Linked DNA regions of Homo sapiens. The protein of the gene in region 2 purifies or fractionates together with the protein of the main gene of each other region. This does not show direct contact. Each region holds a gene or a part of one and is shown on either strand. Other genes may lie near its edges.

Region 1 (3,739 bases), on a different chromosome or scaffold from region 2:
CTAAAAAACACAAATACTTTACCAAAATATTCCTAGTAAAGAAAACCTGGCAAGTGAAGAAATATAAAAAGTACTCAAGTACCAGGCTTAACGTGGAATGTTTCCAACCTTCATTATGACAGATACAGTTATCTACAGAAGAGTTTCCACCCATTCTCTTTTAAGGAATAAACATTATAGCCTGAAAAACATCTATTAAAAAAACCTAACAATGTATTACATTTTTTACGTGTGTCAAACCCTAAAGTACAATGTTATTCCTTAATGAAAACATATGAGGATGCTTAAATGTCATAAGGTTTGGGATATGTAATGTAGTATTTCTTTTGAAATTGTTTTTGATTTATTTCATCTTATTCAGGACCTTAAAATGTCAAAAATACAAACATTTGCTACAATAAACTGATTTCATAGGAAAGGCTAGGCCTACAAACTGGTTCTAAAGACTTGACTTCTGATATAATTCCAGTGTCATAAATAGAAGAAGACTAAAGCAATCACCGTTTTTCCTCATTTAATATTCTACTTGATAAGTTACTACAGTTAAGTACCTCAACTAAAACAATTTTCTACTACAAGACAATTCTTTTAGTTGGAAAGACTCCTCTTGAAAATTCCTTTCCTAACTTTCCAATGAAGAATTGCCTCATTAGAAAGAAAAAGGTTGTTTCTCTTTCTCATTATTGAAGTTTATTTCTATTAGTTAAATTCTACTAACCTCATCCCATTAACTAACTAGTGAGGCTTATAGCTTTCTTCAATCACCATTTTTTGGGGGTTTGATAAATCATTTGTATTCTAGGGTAAATTTGATGGGTTGATATTTTATAGTAATTTTAGCATATATTTTATTTAAAAAGCATAGTTTTCATCACCAAGATTTCTAAAGTTTATCACCAGAAATATGACATATTAGCATCACGAACCCCCTGATATGATGTACAGAGAATGACACAAGATTGTGTCTGTAGTATTCTTGCAATAAATGCGTAACTTCAGTCAAACAATGAGAAAATATCATATAAACCCAAACTGAGGGACAATCTGTAAAATAACTGAAACTCTTCAAACATGTGAAGAAAATGAAGGAAACAGGAAATAACAGTTAAATGCAAGGTGGGATCTTAGGTAGGTTCCTAGAACAGAAAGGGAACATTGGTGAAAACTGAGGGTTAGTTAGTAGTATTGTATCAATGCTACTGCCCTGGATTTGATCATTGTATTATGGTTACACAAGATGTTAACATTAAGGGAAGCTGTGTGAAGTGTATACGGGCACTCTGTACAGTTTTTGTGATTTTTCTATAAGTCTAAAATTAGTTTAAAATGAAAAGTTAAAAATATTCCTAAAGTTTACTAAGTGAGAAAATATCATCAAAACATGAAAGGATAGAATCAAGCAACAAGCTAAGCTATTAACTTAACAATCCATTTCTATCCTGAAAAGGAAAGCTCTTTTCTTATTCTTCCTTTGTGAAATGATTTTTCAGATTCATGTCTTCTGAAAAAAGCATGCATGGATTCACCTGCTCTAACTGAATTATAGATTTTTCTTTAAACCACCTACCAGTTTTTCCCCTATAGAGATGCGTTTTATTTAAATGGAAACTTCAATCTGACGATTGACATCTTAGTGAACTAATTTAAACACTTGTTACATGTCAATAGCAAACACCTTTAAAAATTAACTGGAAGAAACAACAATTATTTACTCCTAAAATCCATTTGTCAAAATCACACAATTATAAAGTAAAATGGATTACCACATATTTATAGCAGGAGAAATAATTTTAAAATGAGGGTGTTTTTCTATTATATTTATGTGGGTTTTATTTTATAGTCACTAGACAGTAAAATCCATCAAGCATTTTATAACTGCTTACATCACAAGTATTCAGTAATTATCTGGGTAACCTCGGACCCAACACTCAAGCACTTTGGTTCTCAGTTCTTTATATGTCAAATAAATAGATCAGTCAAGATCTGTATTATCCAAATATTAGCATGTGGCTATTTAAATGTAATACTTCAAAATTAAAGTAAAAAATTCAGCTTTGAATTTGAGACACATTTCATGCACTCAACAGCCACACATGACTGGTGGCTACTACCCTGGACAGCAAAGATAACAGAACATTTCATCATGACAAAAAGTTCTACTGAACAGTACTGTTCAAGAGGATCTTGACATTCTGCCTTTTCTTTCTTTCTTTCTTTCTTTGAGATGGAGTTTCGCTCTTGTTGCCCAGGCTGGAGTGCAATGGCACAATCTCAGCTCATGCAACCTCCGCCTTCCAGGTTCAAGCGATTCTCCTGCCTCAGCCTCCCAAGTAGCTGGGAGGTGCCCACCACCACGCCCAGCTATTTTTTTTTTTTTTTAATATTTTTAGTAGAGATAGGGTTTCACCATGTTGGCCAGGCTGGTCGCTAACTCCTGACCTCAGGTGATCCACCCGCCTCGGCCTTCCAAAGTGCTGGGATTACAGGCATGAGCCATCGTGCCCGGTCCTGATTGCCTCTTCGATTCTGTGCGTGAGGCTGAACTGTGTCCCTCCAAAACTCATATATTGAAGTTCTAACTCCCAGGATCTCACAGTATGACTGTATTTGGAGACAGAGTCTTTAAAGAGGTAATTAAGGTTTAATGTGGTCATTAGGGTGGGCCATAATCCAGTATAAATGGTGTCCTTACAAGAGGAGGGGATTAGGACACAGACACACGAACATAAAAAGAGACGACAGCCATCTACAAGACGAGGAGAGAGGCCTCGGAAGAAATGACCCTGCAGACGCCTTGATCTCAGACTTCTAGCCTCCAGAACTATGAGAAAATAGATTTCTATAGTTTAAGCCATGCAGTCTACAGCATTTTTTAGGACAACTCAAGCAAACTAATAAACATAATTTTTTAAACCCACATTATGTAACCTATCAATTTGCCCCATCTTCCTGAATTGAAGTACATGGATTATATTTCCTGTTCTAATCAAGCTGGCTTTTCTGTGATGAGCTCTTCTTCTCAATCAGATTCTCATTTTTTTCTATGAATTTTTGTCCAATTTTTTCTATATTCAGAATCTATCAGATTGCATTTTTTCCTTTCATTGATTCAAGTTTTCTCCAACAAGTATTTTCCAGTTATTACACCCATCCTTTCACTTACCAGCAAAACCTGGTGCTTGCCAATCTGTGCAAGCTTAGTCAATGCACTAAATGAAAAGTAAAGGTATTCACTATGAAATAAGTGCAAGGCTAACCTCAGATCAAATCAATTAATGAGTAGTAAATTTTATAACACTAATTTTAATAAAACTTTCAACACTAATAAAAACCTCAAATATAAATATTTTAGCTCTCACATCAGGGATGGAATTTCACACTAGTTTTGGGTAGTAGAATCATATGGAGTTTCTTGACTCCCATTTTAAACTTATCAGGCATGCATATACGGTAACAGGGATTTCATCTATAAAACACTGTAGACCTGGAACATGGAGAATCTACAACAAACCTGTTTAAGAAAAGGTTGGTATTCCTGAACTAGTTGCCTTGTTTTGGCGTAATTTACAAGTTAATACCGATTGGCAGAAGTACTTTTTATATGAGTAGTCTAGGTAGTTATAACACCACATCAATTATTTTAAAACGCTTGACTGTTGAAATATATGTTTAGAGTAGGTTACTAGATTCTTCAAATTCATCCTAGCATTATCCAGTATTTTCATATTTGGTTGGTATT
Region 2 (3,500 bases):
TGTGAGCCAAGATTGCACCATTGCACTCCAGCCTGGGCAACAAGAGCAAAACTCTGTCTCAATAAATAAATAAATAAATAAATAAATAAATAAATAAATAAAATAAAATGCAAAGGTGTTGGAGGGCAAAGATTTGTCTACAAAGGTGTTTATCACATGATAATATTTAAAAATTGTAACCATGTTCAGTAATAAGAAATTAGTTAATTAAATTATTACTCATTAAATAGAACTATATGGCTATTTATTAAATTTCATGGAACAGTGAATAATACACAAAATAGTATATGAAAGTATAATTGATACCCCAATTGAAAATCTTTCTCATTTGTGCACCAACTACATGTAGTAACAGTTAAAGATATATGAAATAAGGTGCAAAATGTTATTTGAAAATGTAATTAATATACCGAAAATCCTCATTTGTAACTCAACTATTTCTTTAGCCTCGTTTAATTTTCTGTTTCTGTTTAGATGGGGGGGAAATTAAGTGCCTTATAAATCAGGATGGCTTTCTCTCTATTCATTGGACATTACTGTTTATTGTGGTTTTTTAAATTTCCTTCCTTCCTTCCTTCCTTCCTTCCTTCCTTCCTTCCTTCCTTCCTTCATCACTCTTTTCCCTCCCTCTCTCTCTCTTTCTCTCTTTCTTTCTTGACAGGGTCTCACTCCCTCACCCAGGATGGAGCACAGTGGCATGATCATAGCTCACTGTAGCCTTAAACTCCTGGATTCAAGCAATTCTCCCTCCTCAACCTCCCAAGTAGCTGGGACTACAGCCACGCACCACCACACCTGGCTAATATTTAAATTTTCTGTAGGAACGAGGTCTCTCTATGTTGCCCAGGCTGGTCTCCAACTCAAAGAACCTCAAGTGATCCTCCCACCTCCATCTCCCAAAGCTCTGGGATTACAGGCATGAGGCATCGTGCCTAGCCTGTATATTGTGTTTTAATGTGACTTTGTCTTTTACTCTTTATTTTGAGATAGCTTTTATACTGAGGCAACATGGAATGAGCATTGGCCTTGGTACCAGATAGATCTAATTCCAAATTCTGCTTCATCTCGTAACAATTATGTAACTCTGAGAAGTTAACTTATTTGAGCTTTGGTTTCTTCATCTGTAAAACATGAAAAAATCTATTTCCCAGGGGAGTAAGGATTAATAACATCAAAGGCAAAGTCCTTAAAATAGGGCTTGCCACTATAATGGGTATTCAACTGATGTTTGTAAAAAACAATGCTTTGGTGAAGGTGATGTTAAAGTTGAAGAACTTTAAAAAAGTTTATATTTGTGGTGGAAATAGAAAATAAAATTCTTAGATAAGTTTTTTTTTAAGAAAAGAAGCCAATTGAGGTGTTAATGTACCTGTTCTTATGTTTATGGTTATGATAAATTATTACAACAAAACTTTCAGGTATTCAAAATAAAGATTTCTTTAATGTTTTAATGTAGTACTTATGACCTAGTACTTTGGCATTAGATAGAACTGGGTTCAAATCCTAGTTCTGACACTTCCTAATATCCTCGTATAAACTTGGGAAAGTTTAAACTCTATATGCCTCAGTTTACTCATCTGTAAAACAGATATAATAGTAGTAGCCATATCATAGGTAGAAGTGATGATTAAATGTGCTTGGGATTTAGTAAACATTCAATAAATGGAAGTTACTATTACTATAATAATAATAATTATTATTATTATTTAACAGCTATGGCCATGTATCATGGCCTCCATTTTATAGATAAGAAATGGAGGCAGAACTAGTGAAGTGGCTTGATCCGAGGAAAAATTTGAAGAAAAACCAAAGTCTACATTCATAGTTAATTCAGTGTATCTGTATTCTATTGAAATACAGTCTCATGAATTAACTGTGTTGACTTCAGATCTTTGTATTCTCTTTGCTTGGACTGCTTCCTGTGCCCACCTCTTTTCACTATCCTATCAGGCCTAATCCTACATGGTCTTTGGTTCCTAGCTGAGACATCACTGCCCTGGGATTTCTTCTCTTCCCTGAGTTGGGTACCTCTCCAATGTGCTCCCAAAGCTCACTGTCCTTGACACAGTCTCCAAACACAGTACTTATCACAATATATGAAGTGTATTTTCTTCTCTGTCTCCTTCACTATGTTTTGTACACCATCGTCTCTGCACCCACATAGCACATAGAAGGTGGTCAATAAATTTTTTTTTTTGAATTTATGTGTTCATTAGAATTTTCTGCTAACTCTACTATTAGCTTTCACTTTTTTTTTTTTTTTAAGACAGAGTTTCGCTCTTGTTGCCCAGGCTGGAGTGCAATGGTGCGATGTCGGCTCACTGCAACCTCCACCTCTCACGTTCAAGCGATTCTCCTGCCTCAGCCTCCCAAGTAGCTGGGATTACAGGCATGTGCCACCATGCCTGGCTAATTTTTGTATTTTTAGTAGAGACAGGGTTTCACCATGTTGATCAGTCTGGATGGTCTTGAACTCCTGACCTCGAGTGATCCACCTGCCTCGGCCTCCCAAAGTGTTGGGATTACAGGTATGAGCCACCATGTCCGGCCTATCTTTCACTTTTGATTGTAGGATAAAATAGGACAGATAAAGGAGGTCAAAGAAAACTTATAGACACAAAGAAAAACTATAAACTGGTAAAGGCAGTCATAACTTTAAGATGACTTTCAAGTGAAAATTTATTTATGATGGATAAAATAACTGAAATCATGCTTTGTTTTCTTTTTTCTTTCTTTTCTTTCTTTTTTTTTGAGATAGACTCTCGCTCTTATAGCCCAGACTGAAGTGCAATGGCACGATCTCAGCTCACTGCAGCCTCTGTCTCCCGTGTTCAAGCGATTCTCCTGCCTCAGCCTCCCAAGTGGCTGGGATTATAGGCACCTGCCACCATGCCCGGCTAATTTTTGTATTTTCAGTAGAGATGGGTTTTCACCATGTTGACCAGGCTGGAATGCTTTACTTTCATACCAGAAGTATCAGAGAACATCTGATTATAATCAGAAACCTGGGTTTGAATCCCAGCTCCAACACTAAATAACTTTGTTTTCTTGAGAAAGTCACTTAATGCATCTGAATCTCAGTTAACCTCATCTGTCAAATAGGACAACAATTCTATCTTTGAGGATTCTCAGATGAAAATGCATATATAAATTGTTAAACTGATAAAATATTAGCCAAAATAAAAAATATGAAAATTATTTTTTTAAGCATTAATTTAAAAACTTTCTATTTTAAGCATTAATTTTATAACTATTATAAAATTTGTACTTAAAAAAAATCATAAGTGCTCTTATAGGTACCCTATAATTCATTTATTCATCCAATAAATATTTATTGAGCATCTACTATGTGCCAGGCACTGTTCTAGGCACTGTGGATTCAGTGGTGAACAAAAGACAAAGTCTCTATCCTAATGGAACTGACATTCTAGTAGGGAAAATATTAATGTTGGGAAGAAAAATAAAATAGAAAAGGGGGATTGAGAATAATGGAGGAGGAA
Region 3 (3,739 bases), on a different chromosome or scaffold from region 2:
CCATGCCTTCTGTTAGCATATAGTAGTTGTTGAAAGATTTGTGATTAGGAATCTCCAAACTGCATTTTTCCAATTTTGTGCCCTTCACCATACCAATAGGTTTGAAGTTGATCAGCTCCAGGGTTTGAGAAATTCAGTCCGAATGGAACTTCAGGACCTGGAACTGCAGCTGGAGGAGCGCCTGCTGGGCCTGGAGGAGCAGCTTCGTGCTGTGCGCATGCCTTCACCCTTCCGCTCCTCCGCACTCATGGTACGCTACCTGGAGGGTGGTCGGAGTTTTCACCAAAGGTTTATTTATAATGTTCCAATAATTTAGGACGTGTGCCTTCATTTCAAGTCATTTATTTTAATGGTATTAAAAGCATGCATACTGTTTAAGGAGCTTTCCCACAAATCAGTTGAATGTACAATTTGTAATAATTGTCATAAATAGTATATTTAGAAATATGTTGAAAATTTTTAATGATAAATTTTAATAACAGGAAAGAATAAGGGCTTATACGAAAGTTGAGGGTTTTTAAAGGAAAAATGCTAGTGAATTAACATATGACTAATGTAAATTTTAATTGTTGCATGTAACTGCAGAGAACACAGATGCATATTTTGCTGTTTTTTTTTCTTTCATGCCTTTAAATAAAAAAGTGTTCCTTTTAAACTTTTTCTTTATTTTGGATTCTTTTCCATTTGTTTTTAAAGGAATCAAATGATACCTGTATATTTTCATACATATATATACATACACATACATATATGTATTTTCCTAAATATATAGATATATATCCAAGAGAATAAAAAGAAACATGTTTTTGTACCACTTTTCATACTTCTAATGTTTCTTTCCATAACATTTGAACTTCAACAGTTGTATTATTTTTGCAAATATCTTTGAAGTTGTAGAATATGTTGCTTTGAAATGCTGAAATAGTGAATTATTCTTTGTTACCTTAACAATGTATTTGATTTTGTTAAAAAGAAATGGATGAATATACACACATACAATTATGTGTGTATATACTATAAATGAAGTAGAATAAACAATGGTGTATAAACACATATATGTATAGCATAGACTAAGGATGTTCTGTATTGCTAATGAATGTACTTTTCAACATGGTTTTGATTTATCATTCTGAGAAGTGTATGTTGGTGACGGGAGAACTAGAACATCCTTTTTGCATATTGTATCAGTTTTAACTCACAATAATGCATTTTATGGGATCTGTGACACTTGAGAGTAACCTTTGTGACATAAAGGGATGCTTCCAGGCACTAATTAGCCAATTAATTTTATTATAAAAGTCTTGTGATTTGAAAAAATATATATGTACATTATAATTATATATGCATGTATGTATATATACACACACATATACATATATATATTGTTCTTACCTTTTCAGGGAATGTGTGGCAGTAGAAGCGCTGATAACTTGTCATGCCCTTCTCCATTGAATGTAATGGAACCAGTAAGCTTCTTTCCTCTTAAATCACTGGGGAAGGGAATGATACAACATTTCAGACACATAGTTTCCCTAGTTTAGATGAAATATATGTTTATTTTAAATACATAATTTGATAAATTATTGTTGATTGGAAGTGACTTTCACCTTTGAAAGTCCATTGCTGTCTGAAGCCACTAGAAAGCCACCTGAATTGCAATAGTGATTTATCTTTCTGACTAAAGGAGGTAATGCACCATAAAAACATGTACAGTGGCTCATGCCTGTAATCCCAGCACTTTATTTAAATGGTTGAGGTGGAAGGATTGCTTCAAGCCAGGAGTTTGAGACCAGCCTAGTCAACAAAATGAGACCCTTTCTCTACAGAAAATTTAAAAATCAGCCAGGCATGGTGATATGTGCCTGTAGTCCCAGTTACTCAGGAGGCTGAGGCGGGAGGATTGCTTGAGGCCAGGAGCTCAAGGCTACAGTGAGCTATGATTGTGCCACTGCACTCCAGCCTGGGTGACAGAGCAAGACCCTGTCTTTAAAAAATAATAAGCCAGGTGTGGTGGCTCATGCCTGTAATCCCAGCATTTTGGGAGGCTGAGGCAAGTGGATCACCTGAGGTCAGGAGTTGAAGACCAGCCTGACCAACATGGTGAAACCGCATCTCTACTAAAAATACAAAAATTAGCTGGGCATGGTGGCAGGCATCTGTAATCCCAGCTACTTGGGAGGCTGAGGCAGGAGACTTGCTTGAACCCGGGAGGCGGAGGTTGCAGTGAGCCGAGATCAAGCCATTGCACTCCAGCCTGGGTGACAGAGTGAGACTCCATCTCAAAAAAAAAAAGAAAATTGATTTTTAATTTACATTTCAGGAGACATGTGCTTTCACAGTTTGATCCTGGTTCTTTAGGTAGTTAGAGCTGTAACATGACCACGTTTTTAACAGAAATCTGTCTTTATTGTGTTAGACAGATTGGTTCATTTGGGGGCAAAAGCACTATGAGTAACTATTTTTCACTAGTTACTCTTCCTTACAAGTGATTTGGACACTTTGGTGGTAACAAGTAAAATTTCATCCTACTATGTATTCTGTTTACCTGTTTTGTTGCTTCATCTCAATAGGAATTTAAATTTTACTTACCATTTTTGCAAATAAAATTGAGTAGTTATTAAATTAATGGAATAGATTTATGTCTTTACAAATTACATGATTTTAGGCAATAATGACAACCAGGACTTTAACCTTTTTAGCTACCAATCTTAATTCCAAGAGAGAAGAATAACATTTTTTTATGATCTCCAGGTCACTGAACTGATGCAGGAGCAGTCATACCTGAAGTCTGAATTGGGCCTGGGACTTGGAGAAATGGGATTTGAAATTCCTCCTGGAGAAAGCTCAGAATCTGTTTTTTCCCAAGCAACATCAGAATCATCTTCTGTATGTTCTGGTCCCTCTCATGCTAACAGAAGAACTGGAGTACCTTCTACTGCCTCAGTGGGCAAATCCAAAACCCCATTAGTGGCAAGGAAGAAAGTGTTCCGAGCATCGGTGGCTCTAACGCCAACAGCTCCTTCTAGAACAGGCTCTGTGCAGACACCTCCAGATTTGGAAAGTTCTGAGGAAGTTGATGCAGCTGAAGGAGCCCCAGAAGTTGTAGGACCTAAATCTGAAGTGGAAGAAGGGCATGGAAAACTCCCATCAATGCCAGCTGCTGAGGAAATGCATAAAAATGTGGAGCAAGATGAGTTGCAGCAAGTCATACGGGAGGTGGGTAAAATCTGTGTTTCATTCATTTATTTGGAGGTATATGTTAGAGGAGATTTTGTCTGAATATTAATTATTTACAGAATGTTCTTTTGATTCACTGTATTCAATAATTTTCACAGAGCTTTTAAATTAGCTTTCCTGTTGATCAAGTTTGTGTCAATTAAGATATATTTGTAATGGCATTTCTGCAAATTTCATACTCTAATGTGAAATAATTACAATTCTCTGTGTTCAGTATGGTGAAAAAGATATGTGAAGGACTCAAAATAAACATGACGTACTCTTTGGACCTCTTGTTTCCACATCTACAAAATGAGGATTTACAGTTTAGATCTCTTCGAGGATTAAAAACTGCATTTTATAGCTGGACGTGGTGGCATGTGCCTGTAGTCCCAGCTACTCGGGAGGCTGGGGTAGGAGAATTGCTTGAACCTGGGAGGCGGAGGTTGCAGTGAGCCAAGATCATGCCATTGCACTCCAGCCTGGGCAGCAGAGCAAGACTCCATCTCAAAAAAAAAAGAAA

What was found.
Region 1: the proteins of MYPN (region 2) and HOMER1 purify together in Homo sapiens (affinity purification with mass spectrometry; one large-scale study listed by BioGRID and IntAct). This does not show direct contact.
Region 3: the proteins of MYPN (region 2) and ITPRID2 purify together in Homo sapiens (affinity purification with mass spectrometry; one large-scale study listed by BioGRID and IntAct). This does not show direct contact.

The regions. Positions count from the first base shown.
Region 1 is NC_000005.10:79,402,501-79,406,239, forward strand, and holds part of HOMER1 (homer protein homolog 1), read right to left. Parts: intron 1-3,739. UniProt on the Homo sapiens protein: Postsynaptic density scaffolding protein. Binds and cross-links cytoplasmic regions of GRM1, GRM5, ITPR1, DNM3, RYR1, RYR2, SHANK1 and SHANK3.
Region 2 is NC_000010.11:68,115,988-68,119,487, reverse strand, and holds part of MYPN (myopalladin), read right to left. Parts: intron 1-3,500. UniProt on the Homo sapiens protein: Component of the sarcomere that tethers together nebulin (skeletal muscle) and nebulette (cardiac muscle) to alpha-actinin, at the Z lines.
Region 3 is NC_000002.12:181,919,197-181,922,935, forward strand, and holds part of ITPRID2 (protein ITPRID2), read left to right. Parts: intron 1-99; coding exon 100-250; intron 251-1,400; coding exon 1,401-1,466; intron 1,467-2,751; coding exon 2,752-3,216; intron 3,217-3,739.